Linked DNA regions of Homo sapiens. The protein of the gene in region 3 purifies or fractionates together with the protein of the main gene of each other region. This does not show direct contact. Each region holds a gene or a part of one and is shown on either strand. Other genes may lie near its edges.

Region 1 (3,644 bases), on a different chromosome or scaffold from region 3:
AATTAATTTTCTCAATAGCTAACACAGGACCTGACATCTAGCAAAAGCTCAAGAAGCATCTCCTGAATGAATGAACAAACTGCAACAAGGTTCCACACTCCCAAAATAAAGCAAACGCCTTTATCCTCACTCATGCCCATGCCCATACACACACACACACACACACACACACACACACTCTCTCTCTCTCTCTCTGCTGGCCCCACACTCCCTCCCAGGCAGGCTCTCCAATAAACTCTTATGTACCCCTCTCTGTGCCCTCACCCATAAGCAGGGGCCCTGCCCACAGCCTCACCGTGGGCAGCTGGCGTGAAGACCACTGCACTTTGAGGAAGTTGATGTTGTCACTGCTCTGGGCATCATTCTCAAAGCTCTTCTTGTATTCTGGGGTGGGGGTGGGAGACACCCAACTGAGCACCACCTCTCAGCTTCCTTTCCCCCTAAGTAGGGGGCTGACTGCACCCTCTTGCCTCCCATCCTCCTTGGCCCACACCCAGCCCCTGCCACGCCTCTGACCCTCCAGGCAGGTAGAGTAGAACTCGATGAAGAACTTGGTGCGGCTGGCTGTCTTCACAATGGCCTCGATGCTCTCAAACTCAATGTAGGCCTGGTCTGAAGTCTTTGAGAGCCCTGAGGAGAAAGGGAGGAGAACAAACAGGAGGACTGAGAGGATCACAGGAGGAATGGGACAGAGAAACAGGGCCCTGGGACAGGAAATCAGGGGTCCAGAGCAAGGAGGCAGGGCCAGGAGGGGCCTCCCCAGTCCCAAGCCACCAACAGGGAATCTCCAGAGGCCAGACCCTGGACCAGAGCAAAGAGACAACCCAAGGATAAAAAACCCATTGAAGAGGGTGCTGGGGACCAGAATGCCTGCAGGATTCCCACACCTACAGGCATACTCAGGGACACACACGTGGCCCTAGACAGACACAGACACATAGATAGGTGTACACTCACGTATGCACACACACTCATGGGCACACAACTCTTGTGATGGCCCAGGCGCACAGACACCCTGACACATCACACCTTGAGAAACACTCCTGCACTCACTGGTACACACACCCACACACACACTTACATAGTCAAACCTATGTACATCCCGAGGCCACCACCTGTGCCCACCTAGATTATGCCACACCCACAAGCATATCTGGAACAGTCACCTTTCTTGGAGATGAACTGGGAGGTAACTCCAACCTCAAATGTCCCAAACACGGGGGAATGGTCGCTGGTGACGATGTCATCAGTGCAACCTGGGGAGAGGGGATAGGAATGGGGACTCAGGGGGAATATTCCCACCCTCGGCTCCCACCTCCCAAGGTTAGGGCAGAGTCCAGATGGTGACCACCCCAGATCTCCCATCACTCTGTCCGGGAGGCTCTGACCATAAGAATTGCAGATGATGTGAGTTTCAGGGTAGGATTTCCACAGAATCCGGTCACACCATGAGGGCACATTGGTCCGGACCTGGGGCAGGGGATGGCAGCATGGTTAGAGCTGACAGCTAGGAGGCTGCTTGGCATGGACCCCACTCCAGAGCTGATGAGTCCCCACACTTCTATTACTAGAGGCCCTAGCACCCACCTCCCTTCTTGGATCCTCAAAATACCCAGGATCACCCAAAGGCCTCAGAGGGGCCATGGAGGCTGGAGTGGAAGCTGCAGAGGCCCATACCCTTGACCCAAATTCTTGATTCATCGCAGGCCTGCGGTCCCCCAAGGCCCATGCCGTTTTCTTGGCTCACCCCAGTTGGCTTCTGCTTGTGCCAGGCATATGTGTCCCGGGAACCCCGCTCATAGCGGTAGGTGGGTGGGAAGGAGATCTCCTCCTCACCTAAGGAAAGCAGGAGACAGGTGGGGTTCAGGGCCCTGACACCCAGGGATACTGCAAGTCTCCTAGCCCTCAGATCACCACCTACCAGGCCCACACTCACTGAATCGAAGGAAGACCTTGTGCTTCTCCCGCTCCAGGTTGAGCTGGTCCACCCTGAGGAGGGGCTCAAACTCTTTCCTGCTGATGTAGTTCAGGATCTCCTGGGGTGGAGGACACAAAGGCTAGAAACATTCCTCCGGAGCCAGAGCCAGGGGTGATAGCCCATGTGGCCCTTAGCCTCCCTACAGCCATGGCAGGGCCCTGCTCGCACCTGGATATCCATGTCCAGGCGGTAGTTGAGGTCCCCAAACCAGAAGAGGTGTGTGAAACGCAGAGAGATGTCAAAGGCATTGAGCTGCCGGTCGCCCAGCGAGAGCAGCCGCAGGATGTCCAAGTAGTTTTGGTTCCTCCTAGGGTGAGGGGTGCGTGGTGGGGAGGGGTAGATCCCCAGGGTCAGGGCCAGAAGTCAGGGATAGGCATAAAGGGAAGAAGTCTCAGGAGTCAGGGATGGGGTAAAGATCCGGGCCCCTGGGGACAAGGTTAGGGTCAGGAACAGAAGGGTCTTGAATTGGGATAAGAGAGCAGGGGGTCTCTGGAGACAGGCCTGCGGGAGGGTCATGGGCTAGGGTATGGGAGCGGGAACAGGCCTCAGGTGAATGGGATGGGTGTAAAGAGACCATGGGAAAGGCGCCCCCTCACCGAGCCGTCTTCTCATTTCCCGAGGTGAGGTGACAATTCACAAAGCCAAATGAGGTGCCATTAAACATGAAGGAGACGCCCACAGCCCCCTTGTTCCCTGTTAAGGCAAGCAAGAGAGGAAGGCCTGGGTCATCCTCAGAGGGCTCCCAACTCTCCCTTCTGCCTCTCAAAGCTGCAGTGAGAGGATCCTCCCGCTGAGCCCACCAGACGCTGTGACATGGGCAGGCCCCTGCACACACCCACACCTTCCCTGGGGGAGGGGGGGGTCCTCATTGGGCACACATGGTCTGTGTGGATGGCCTGAGTCTGTCTGTATGTGTGAGCAGAGCCCCTGGAGATCACAGGGGACCCCAAGGGTGAAGCTGAAAGGCCCTGCAGATTCTGCGCAGAATCTACCTGGGAGAGCACCAGACCGAAAATCAGGAGACCTGGGCACAATGCCTGGCTCCACCACTTACTTGCTGTGTGACCTTGGGCAGGTCACTCAACCACTCTGGGTTTGAGTTTTATCATCTGTGAAAAGGGGGTAATTATCCTGGCCTTGCCTTCCCAGTGGTGCTGGGAGAGATTTAGAATATGAATATGTTTTTCAAAGTTCAAAGTACCCTATATATGGGGAAACTAAGATCACCAAAAATGGGGCAATCCTAGGCTTGAGAGGAAGCAGAAGCCATGGACAGAGAGACGCTGCCACTCTTGGGCACCTGCCAGCCCCACTTACCCAGGGTGTTGGCGATGCCAGTCTTCACACTGGACGTACTGACATGGCTGATACGGTTCTCGTGCTCTGGCTTGACCAGCACTGCCACCTTGATATTCCACAGTGATTGCATGGCAATCTGGGTAGAGAGTGCATGGTCACCACTGCCCTGCTGCACCCACTGCCTGCATTTCCCCCTGCACTATAAATAGACTTTTGTGTCCATCACAGGGTAGGAAGGCTTGCCACCCCTCTTCCTGACGGACTGGAGAGAAATGGTTCCTCTCGTGGCATGAAGGACTCAGGTCAGATCTCCCAAAGGATATGCTCAGGGACCAGAGAAAAAGCCAGTGAAGCTGTGCTCCCAGGG
Region 2 (4,292 bases), on a different chromosome or scaffold from region 3:
AGTGCTGGGATTACAGGTGTGAGCCACTGCGCCTGGCCGGGGTATGTACTTTCAACATAGATCGCTTGGGGTGACATTCTCTGTGCCTCAGTTTCCTCCTCTGTAAGGGGAGATAATAGTACTTTTCTTAGAGGGTTGTTGTGAGGATTAAATGAGGTAATACATGGATTGCTTATGACCAAGCCGAGGAAATGTTTGACATGCATTAGTATTTTGTAGATTGTTCCCCGAATTTGTCCAATAATTGATTTAGCCCAGTGGTCCCCAAACTGTTCCATGATAGGAGTCGTCGGAGTGGCCAGGCGTGGTGGCTCACACCTGTAATCCTGGCACTTTGGGAGGCCAAGGTGGGTGGATCACTTGAGGTCAGGAGTTCAAGACCAGCTTGGCCAACATGGAGAAACCTGTTCTCTACTAAAAATACTGTAATCCCAGCTCCTCGGGGGGCTGAGGCAAGAGAATCTCTTGAACCTGGGAGGCGGAGGGTGCAGTGAGCCGAGATTGCGCCACTGCACTCCAGCCTGGGCGACAGAGTGAGACTCTGTCTCAAAAAAAAAAAAAAATCACCTGAGGAGGGCTCTTCCTAGAAAAATCGGACTCAGTGGGTCTGTATGGAGGCCCAGAAATCCTGTTTTTAATCAGCACTCCAGGCCGGGAGCGGTGGCTCACGCCTGTAATCCCAGCACTTTGGGAGGCCGAGGCAGGCAGATCACCTGAGGTTGGGAGTTTGAGACCAGTCTGACCAACATGCAGAAACCCCGTCTCTACTAAAAATACAAAAAAATTAGCCAGGCGTGGTGGCACATGCTTGTAATCCCAGCTACTCAGGAGGCTGAAGCAGGAGAATCGCTTGAACCCAGGAGGCGGAGGTTGTGGTGGGCGAGATCGTGCCACTGCACTCCAGCCTGGGCAACAAGAGCGAAACTCCATCTCCCAAAAAAAAATAAAAAATAAAATAAGCACTCCAGGCATTTCTTATCCTCAGGGAAGCTTAGAGAGTACCGTGTATCATACTCTGTGAAACCCATGGAAGCTCACATTGGCTCCCACCTCTCCACACACACTCCTGCTCCCAGACTGCACTTAAAAACACCTGCGCCTGGAGGTAGCAGCCGCCTGAGCTACAGAGGAGGGCTTGAGAAGAGGGGAGAAGTGGAGACTCAGGGGACCTGGTGGCAGAGAGTTTCAAGCTGGAAAGTCAAGCCTGGCTCAGTCCACACAGACCTGCTGCTCTGTGGATTTGAGCAAGTTAATGAACCTCTTGGGGCTGATCCCCCACCTAGGGGCTGCTGTGAGGGCGCAGTGAGATCTCGAGGCCCACACATAGGAGCTGATTTTAATAGAGGAGGGAAGTCTGATCCTACACAGATTCCTGAGGAAAGGGAGACAGCAGGGGGTGGAGAAGGGCTGGAAGGGGGTAGTGGGAGTCCAAGTTTTTGGCACCAAATCAAAGGCACCTGGGGGGTGGTGGGGCTGGGAGCCGGGGGCCAGCTGGCCTGTCTGTCTCCCTGACCTCTCCCTGTTGCCACAGACCTTGTGGCCTGAGGCTGGACTATAGGTGTTTCCAGTGGCTGTCCAAGTTCATGAAGGTGTTAGTGTTTATTGGTGAACTTGAGGATGTTTGCATCCTTGGGGGTTGTTTCTGCTATGGGAGAAAGGGGATTTGTCCACCTGGTTCAGGTGGGAATCTGAGCCCAATGGGTGACCCTTCCGAAGAAAACTCAGATGGTCCTCCTCTCCCAGCACTCCCAGCCTTGCACTCTCTTCCCCTCCACTGTAGGGGTGGGGTCCCCCGGTTGGAGAAAAGCCTGGGGGCTAGCTGGGTGCTGCCCCCAGCTCCTCACTGCGTCCTCCCACTGAATCCCGAGAGGCATGCGCTATAAACCCACTTTACAGAGGGGAAAATGAAGCCTGAGGCCACGGAGCAGTGATGCGCAGGGCAGGGGTTCAAGTCTCATGAGGCTGGTAAGCCTGTCTGCTCCTGTGTCTTCCAGGGTCTCCTGGACCAAAGCCCCAGCCCCACCTACCCCTGCGGCCCCCGCCCTTGGGAAGTGAGGGAACAGTGTGGGAATGGAGGCAGCCCACCGGAAGACCTGGTTCCTCCGGCTAGAGTGAGTGAGTGAGTGTGTGTGTGTGTGTGTGCGCGCGCGCGGGCGCGCCGCCCTTGTTGAGAGACTAAGGAAGTAGTTTGCCCTCTCTTAACCTCTGTTGGCCGCTCTGTAAACTGCGGGCACACTCTGGCCTTCTCAGGTGGTGGTGAGGCTTCCCTGAGCTCTCGCCTGCGAAGTGGTCAGCACGTCCCCGGCAAGGTTCCAAGTGTCCTTGTTTTGTGCATCACAGGGAGGGCAAAGCTCACCTCACGCGAAGCGCCATGAACATCACTTTTACATGGAAGCCCAGCACCCCTGGGTTCTCCCTAAGCCCCTCCTAAGCCCGCCCACTTCCCGCCACTTTCAGGCTGCAGCCTCCGATGGCCCTCGTTTCTGCTCTTTCTACCGCGTGATAGCGGCGCGAAGCCCACCCAGCCCTGGGGGCGGAGGCCCGGTCTCCCCGCCATGGCAGTAAACCCCACTCTGCCAGCACACTGGCGGGTGTGGAGGGAGGGAGAGCGGCTGATCCCCTGGTCCCTAGATGGTGCACACGCCAGGAAGGGCGGTAGGGATACGGCACAGGTGTGAGGGTGCAGACGCTCCCCACTACCCTTTCCACCCCTCCCCCGCGCCCTCCGCTGCCTCCCTCACCCGGGCACGGCTGTCGCAGCAACTGGACAACGGTGACATTGGTGAGGACGATGTCGCGCTTCGACATGGCCTCTTATAAGGTTATCATTGGCCTGGACCTGCTGTGATGTTACCGAGGTGCGTGCGGAGCGCCAGGGCTGTGGGTCCTGGGCTAATTGCCCTGATGTCACAGCACCCAGTGACGTCACAGTACCCAGTGACGTCGCCGAGGGGCGGCGCCCAAGCCAGAGGCCTGACACCATCGCATCCCATCCCCGTAGAGGCATGGGACGTCAGCACGCTATGCATCACCGTTCCACGGCCACGCACTGCCGTCTGGAATGGAATCCCACTTTTTAAAATTATCATTTGTTTATTTATTTTGAGACGGGGTGTCACTCTTTCTCCTAGGCTGGAGTGCAGTGGTGCAATCATGGCTCACTGCAGCCTTGAACTCCTGGGCTCAAGCGATCCTCCCGCCTCGGCCTCCTGAGTAGCTGGGACTACATGTGCAGCCACCACTGCAGGCTATTTTTACTTTTTATTTTTTTGTAGAGAGAGGGTCTCACTCTTTTGCTCAGGCTGGTCTAGAACCCTTGGGCTCAAGCGATCCTCCCACCTCGGCCTTCCAAAATGCTGGGATTACAGGAGCGAGCCACCACACCCAGCCTGGAATCCCACCTTTTACACTGTTCCTGAAAGCCCTTTCCTCTTCTCTGTCTCTTGAAGCACACAGGTTCCATGCTGTCCCTTGGATTCTCCAGTGGAGTGACTCTTGCTGCCTCCGTATGCCTGGAAGGCCCACCCAGGGCTTCCCTTGGCTGCCTCTTGGTTTCCCACCCTTTAAGAGAGGCTTTCTACACTCTGCATCTAAGTTCCCTCCTTTCTCTGTCACTGTCAGCCGTCACCCCCTTCCCAATTTCTGCCCATCTTCCAGGAAGCCTTGTCTGACTTCTCCATTCTGAGTTATGCTTCAGTGTGCAAAATTTCTCTAGGGCTACACTGTCTATGTTTTTATTTTCCTTAGAGCACATGTCTCTCTAAAAATTGTTTGTTTTCTTGCCAACTGTCTCTGTCCACCAGACTGTAAGCTCTGAGAGGACAGGGACGTCATCTATGTCACTTCTGTATCCCATTGACAAGAAAAGTGTTTGGCACCTGAAAGGTGTTTGTGGGCTGGACGCAGTGGCTCATGCCTGTAATCCCAACACTTTGGGAGGCTGAGGTGGGAGGATCATTTGAGTCCAGGAGTTTGAGACCAACATGGGCAATGTGGCAAAACCCTGTATCTACAAAAAATAAAAAAAGTAGCCAGGTGTGGTGGTGCATGCCTGTTGTCCCAATTATTAGGGAGGCTGAGGTGGGAGGATCACTTGAGCCTAGGAGGTCAAGGCTGCAGTGAGCTGTGATTGTGTCACTGCACTCCAGCTGGGAGACAGAGCAAGACCCTGTCTGAAAAAGGCGTTAGCCCAATAAACTATACCTGAATGAATAAATGTCAATTCCTCAGGTTTCATCTGATCGCTAATCTTTTCTTTTCTTTTCTTTTTTTTGAGACAGAGTTTCGCTCTT
Region 3 (4,070 bases):
AGCAGTATCTGGTTACTTACTTGTCACCTCAGTTTGACTGTAAGAGGCTTGGGGGCAGGTGACATATCTTATTGGTCTATATCCCTACCACCACATATAACAACTAAAATGAGTAGACACTTAAGAAACTATGCCAAGAATTAGCAAATAAACAGGACTGTTTTGAAAATGTCAGATGTATTGCATATGCTAGAATTTTTGTCCTGAAGAAGAAAAAATGTTACTCTTTAGCAGACAATTAGGTAGGTTTTAAGAAAATTGTAGTATATATTTTGACTGTGTCTTTATGAAACCAAGTAAAGGGAGGACATTTTCATTTGTTATCTGGATGTTTGTCCACCATTTTAAATTTGCCATTTTTCTTTTCTTTTCTTTCTTTTTTTTTTTGAGACAGAGTTTCACTCTTGTCGCCCAGGCTGGAGTGCAGTAGCGCGATCTCAGCTCACTGCAACCTCCACCTCCAGGGTTCAAGCAATTCTCCTGCCTCAGCCTCGCAAGTAGCTGGGATTATAGGTGCATGCCACCATGCCCAGCTAATTTTGTATTTTTTAGTAGAGACAGGGTTTCACCATGTTGTCCAGTGTGGTCTCGAACTCCTGACCTTAGATGATCTGCCTGCCTCGGCCTCCCAAAGTGCTAGGATTACAGGTGTGAGCCACTGTGCCCGGCCAATTTGCCATTTTTCTACATAGCCATTAGCAAAATAACTAAGTTATCAAGATTTGAGATCAGAGCATCTTTTAGCCCTTCCTTCACTGCTATTCTAACTACCTCAATTAATTACTATACCAGTATGATCCCTTCTTTAGTTTTTTTTTTTTTTTTTTTTTTTACTTTTAAGTTCAGGGGTACATGTGCAGGATGTGCAGGTTTGTTACACAGGTAAATGTGCATCATTGGAGGTTTGCTATATGGGTTATTTCCTCACCCAGGTATTAAGCCTAGTATCCATTAGTTATTTTTCCTGATCCTCTCCCTCCTTCCACCCTCCACCCTTCGATAGGCCCCAGTGTGTGTTGTTCCTCACCATTATACTAGTACGATCTAAAGTCAACTGTAAAATTATAAAGACAGGAACATGTAAAATAAGGAACCCTGTAAATTAATTTTGCAGTACATTTATATTTTCATTCCCTCCTCCCCATCAGTTTGGCAGTGAACCTGCCTTGCATCTGACAGCGAGCTCTAGGGTGCATTTATGCCCCCTTTTTGCAGATATCACTACGTAAGACCTCTGGGTTTAAGATCTGGCTTCAAGACATCTCTATTCATACTCAGTGGGGATCAACTTCACTGTGTAGTAGGAGGTGATCAGAAAAACCCAGTCTGTCTAAAATAACTTCCCCTTTTCCTAGATTTGCCAGCAGAACTGCTCTTTTGGATTTAAGACCTAATTGGAGGTCTTGTCTGTGGCAATTAAATGAATTCTTAAAATGTACCTGCTAGCTGAGGAGAGAGGTGAGATTAGTTCCTTCCCATTAACACCTTAACTCCCAGGTACACATTCACATGGATTAGTGTGTGATAATCTTGGTGTTGTAACAGTAGAGGCCCCAAAGACACTGAACAAAAACAGGGCATTTTAAAAACGTTTAAAAATATGAACTGTAAAGATGAACATAGCATTAGAGAAAGTTGAGAGAAAAAAGCACAATGTTCTTTGATTATTTTTATTAACTGTATTCTTTCAATGCTCACATTTTGCTTTTATAACCTGAAAAAATATCCTAAAACATGCTTTTTAAACCAATATTCCACATCTTGTGTAACTATTACCATTATTGTGTCCTTCCTTACAGTGTGTATATAAATATTTGTATATGGTTGGGATCAGTTTGTGATATATTTCCTTTTGCAACTTAACATTGCCAAGGCACTTAGCTGGTTCTCATACTAAGTTATTTAACTGTCTAATAACTTAAGTAGATGAACCTTAATTTATTTAGAATCCCGTATTGCAGAGTATCTTGGTCGTTTCTAACTTTTTAGTATAAATAGCTCGGTGGTGCACATTTCCACGCATAAACTGCCCCTCCTCCCTTCCTCCCATTCTGAATGACAGGGCTGGAGCGGGTGGGGGTCTCTGAAGGGTCCTGGGGATGTCTTTCGTCCAAGCTCATGCCCTTCCTAATTTTGCTTAGTCACTCCTTCATCCCACCCCCACACATACTCGACGTAGAAATGGCTGGGCATAAAGCCAACATCTGGTGACCAGACCAGGAAAGGGGCCAGGAGCTGGGGACCACCGGGTGAGAGGAGGTTGAGGGGTGCTAGCGAATCCCACCTACCCTCCACCCTGCACCGCAGCTCTGGGGGCGTCCTTGCCCAGGACTAGTTTCAGACCAGCCGGCGACTCGCAAGGCCAGGCTGCTTGGCCAGGCTGCTGACTTTTCCAAAACGCGAGGGGACAGTCCGAAGAGTTCCCGGACGGATTAGCCCAAAGAGCTGCGGGCGAGGGTCGGTTGAGGGAAGAAAATGTGTGCGCGACATGCGTCCGAAAGCTAGACTTCTGATCCTCGCTCCCCGCGGGGCTGGACCCGTGACCCTGAGCTAGTCGCCTGACTCGCCGAGCCTCAGTTTCCTCACCTGTGAAATGGGGATAATTGTGAAGATGAGGAGATAACTTGAGCACAGCACTCTGTGCAGCGCCAGGCACCGAGTAAGGGCTCCATAAACGCTAACCAACCCGTGACAGGGGAAAATTGAGGCTCAGGGCCATCCCGTCCAAGTGTTTTGCCGAGGCCCCAGGGCTTGGCTAGGGATGGACGCCGGGTGTGAACGGAGTCGCTCGCAGCCCAGCGGCCAGGAGCTCCGCGAGGATCGAGGGGACGAAACTCACCTTCTTGGCCCCCGGGCGTCCAGCAGGTGCCATGGTGCCGCGGCTCTGTGGGCGCCGGGTTCCCGGGCGCGCGGCCGTCTAGGAGCCCGCCCCCAGCCCGGGGGGAGGATCCGACCCCCGCCCCGCCGGCCCCGCGGCCTCAGGCTGCCCGCTGGCCTCGGAGCAGGCGCCTGCGCCCTCGGCCTCGGCCTAGTCATGCTCCGTCCCGGCGCGCAGCTGCTGCGGGGCCTCCTGCTGCGGAGCTGCCCGCTGCAGGGCTCCCCCGGGCGCCCGCGCTCTGTCTGCGGCCGGGAAGGGTGAGTGGGGCCCCGTCCTGCTCAGAGGCGACGGGGCGGCTGCGGGGGTGGGAGCCAGAGGCTGAGGCAGGCTCAGGGGTTAGGAGCGCTCTGGCCTCCAAGAAATAGGCCTTGATATATCTTCTCGAATTATCTTTTAATTATAAAGTGAAACAGTATCCAAAGGTTCCCCGTGTAAAGTCTCTCCTGCCCCAATCCCCTTGGCCAGTGAACAATTGTTAATAGTGTCTTCTGAATCTAACCAGAGACAGTCTACGCATAGGCAAACACAGGTCAGTATAGGTTTTCCTTTGGCTTTTTGACATCTTGCTTTTTACAATTATCAATATATCTTGGAGATTGTTCCATATCAGCACACACTGACTTGCCTTGTTCCTTTTAATGGCTGCATAGTTTTCCATCCTGTCAATATTCTACACTATCGTTAGTCTATTCATTAACATTTAAATGGTTTTTGGTTGTTTATTACTGCAAATAACGTGCATGTGAAAATTCTTAGGCATCTATCTTTGAGTACATATGGGAGTCGGTAGCAACAGTTTTTAAAGGTGAACTTGTTAGGGAAAAGGTTACGTGCATCTGAAAGATTGAAAGACAGCAACACATTCTCCAAGTGGGTGGCAAGAGTTTGCATGCGGCACACCAGTGTGTGTCTGTTTCCCACATCTTCCCTGGTTCCCAGAATAGCCCATTTTGTTATCTTTGCTAAATCTGATAGGTAAAAATGGCATGTCCTTGTTTTGATTGGTCTGTATTTAAATATGAGCAATGCTGAACATCTTTCGACTTCTTATATTTGTAGATTATTCCTGGTTGCCAGGAAAGGCTTGTTTATCAGCATCACTCAACATTATTATGAGTTGATTCGAATTTTATTTTATGTCCTATGACCTGAAATTCTGGAATCAGAAGACCTGCTTTTGAGTTCCATCTAT

What was found.
Region 1: the proteins of BHMT2 (region 3) and INPPL1 purify together in Homo sapiens (affinity purification with mass spectrometry; 3 studies listed by BioGRID and IntAct, with this or other methods). This does not show direct contact.
Region 2: the proteins of BHMT2 (region 3) and GAPDHS purify together in Homo sapiens (affinity purification with mass spectrometry; one large-scale study listed by BioGRID and IntAct). This does not show direct contact.

Annotation. Positions count from the first base shown.
Region 1 is NC_000011.10:72,231,267-72,234,910, reverse strand, and holds part of INPPL1 (phosphatidylinositol 3,4,5-trisphosphate 5-phosphatase 2), read right to left. Parts: intron 3,414-3,644; coding exon 3,296-3,413; intron 2,672-3,295; coding exon 2,575-2,671; intron 2,286-2,574; coding exon 2,147-2,285; intron 2,037-2,146; coding exon 1,937-2,036; intron 1,837-1,936; coding exon 1,748-1,836; intron 1,471-1,747; coding exon 1,389-1,470; intron 1,257-1,388; coding exon 1,167-1,256; intron 631-1,166; coding exon 517-630; intron 385-516; coding exon 296-384; intron 1-295. UniProt on the Homo sapiens protein: Phosphatidylinositol (PtdIns) phosphatase that specifically hydrolyzes the 5-phosphate of phosphatidylinositol-3,4,5-trisphosphate (PtdIns(3,4,5)P3) to produce PtdIns(3,4)P2, thereby negatively regulating the PI3K (phosphoinositide 3-kinase) pathways.
Region 2 is NC_000019.10:35,532,044-35,536,335, reverse strand, and holds the start of GAPDHS (glyceraldehyde-3-phosphate dehydrogenase, testis-specific), read right to left. Parts: upstream 2,881-4,292; 5' UTR 2,809-2,880; coding exon 2,742-2,808; intron 1-2,741. UniProt on the Homo sapiens protein: May play an important role in regulating the switch between different pathways for energy production during spermiogenesis and in the spermatozoon. Required for sperm motility and male fertility.
Region 3 is NC_000005.10:79,068,585-79,072,654, reverse strand, and holds the start of BHMT2 (S-methylmethionine--homocysteine S-methyltransferase BHMT2), read right to left. Parts: upstream 2,889-4,070; 5' UTR 2,873-2,888; coding exon 2,840-2,872; intron 1-2,839. Other genes in the region: DMGDH (dimethylglycine dehydrogenase, mitochondrial precursor), read left to right, coding at 3,035-3,135.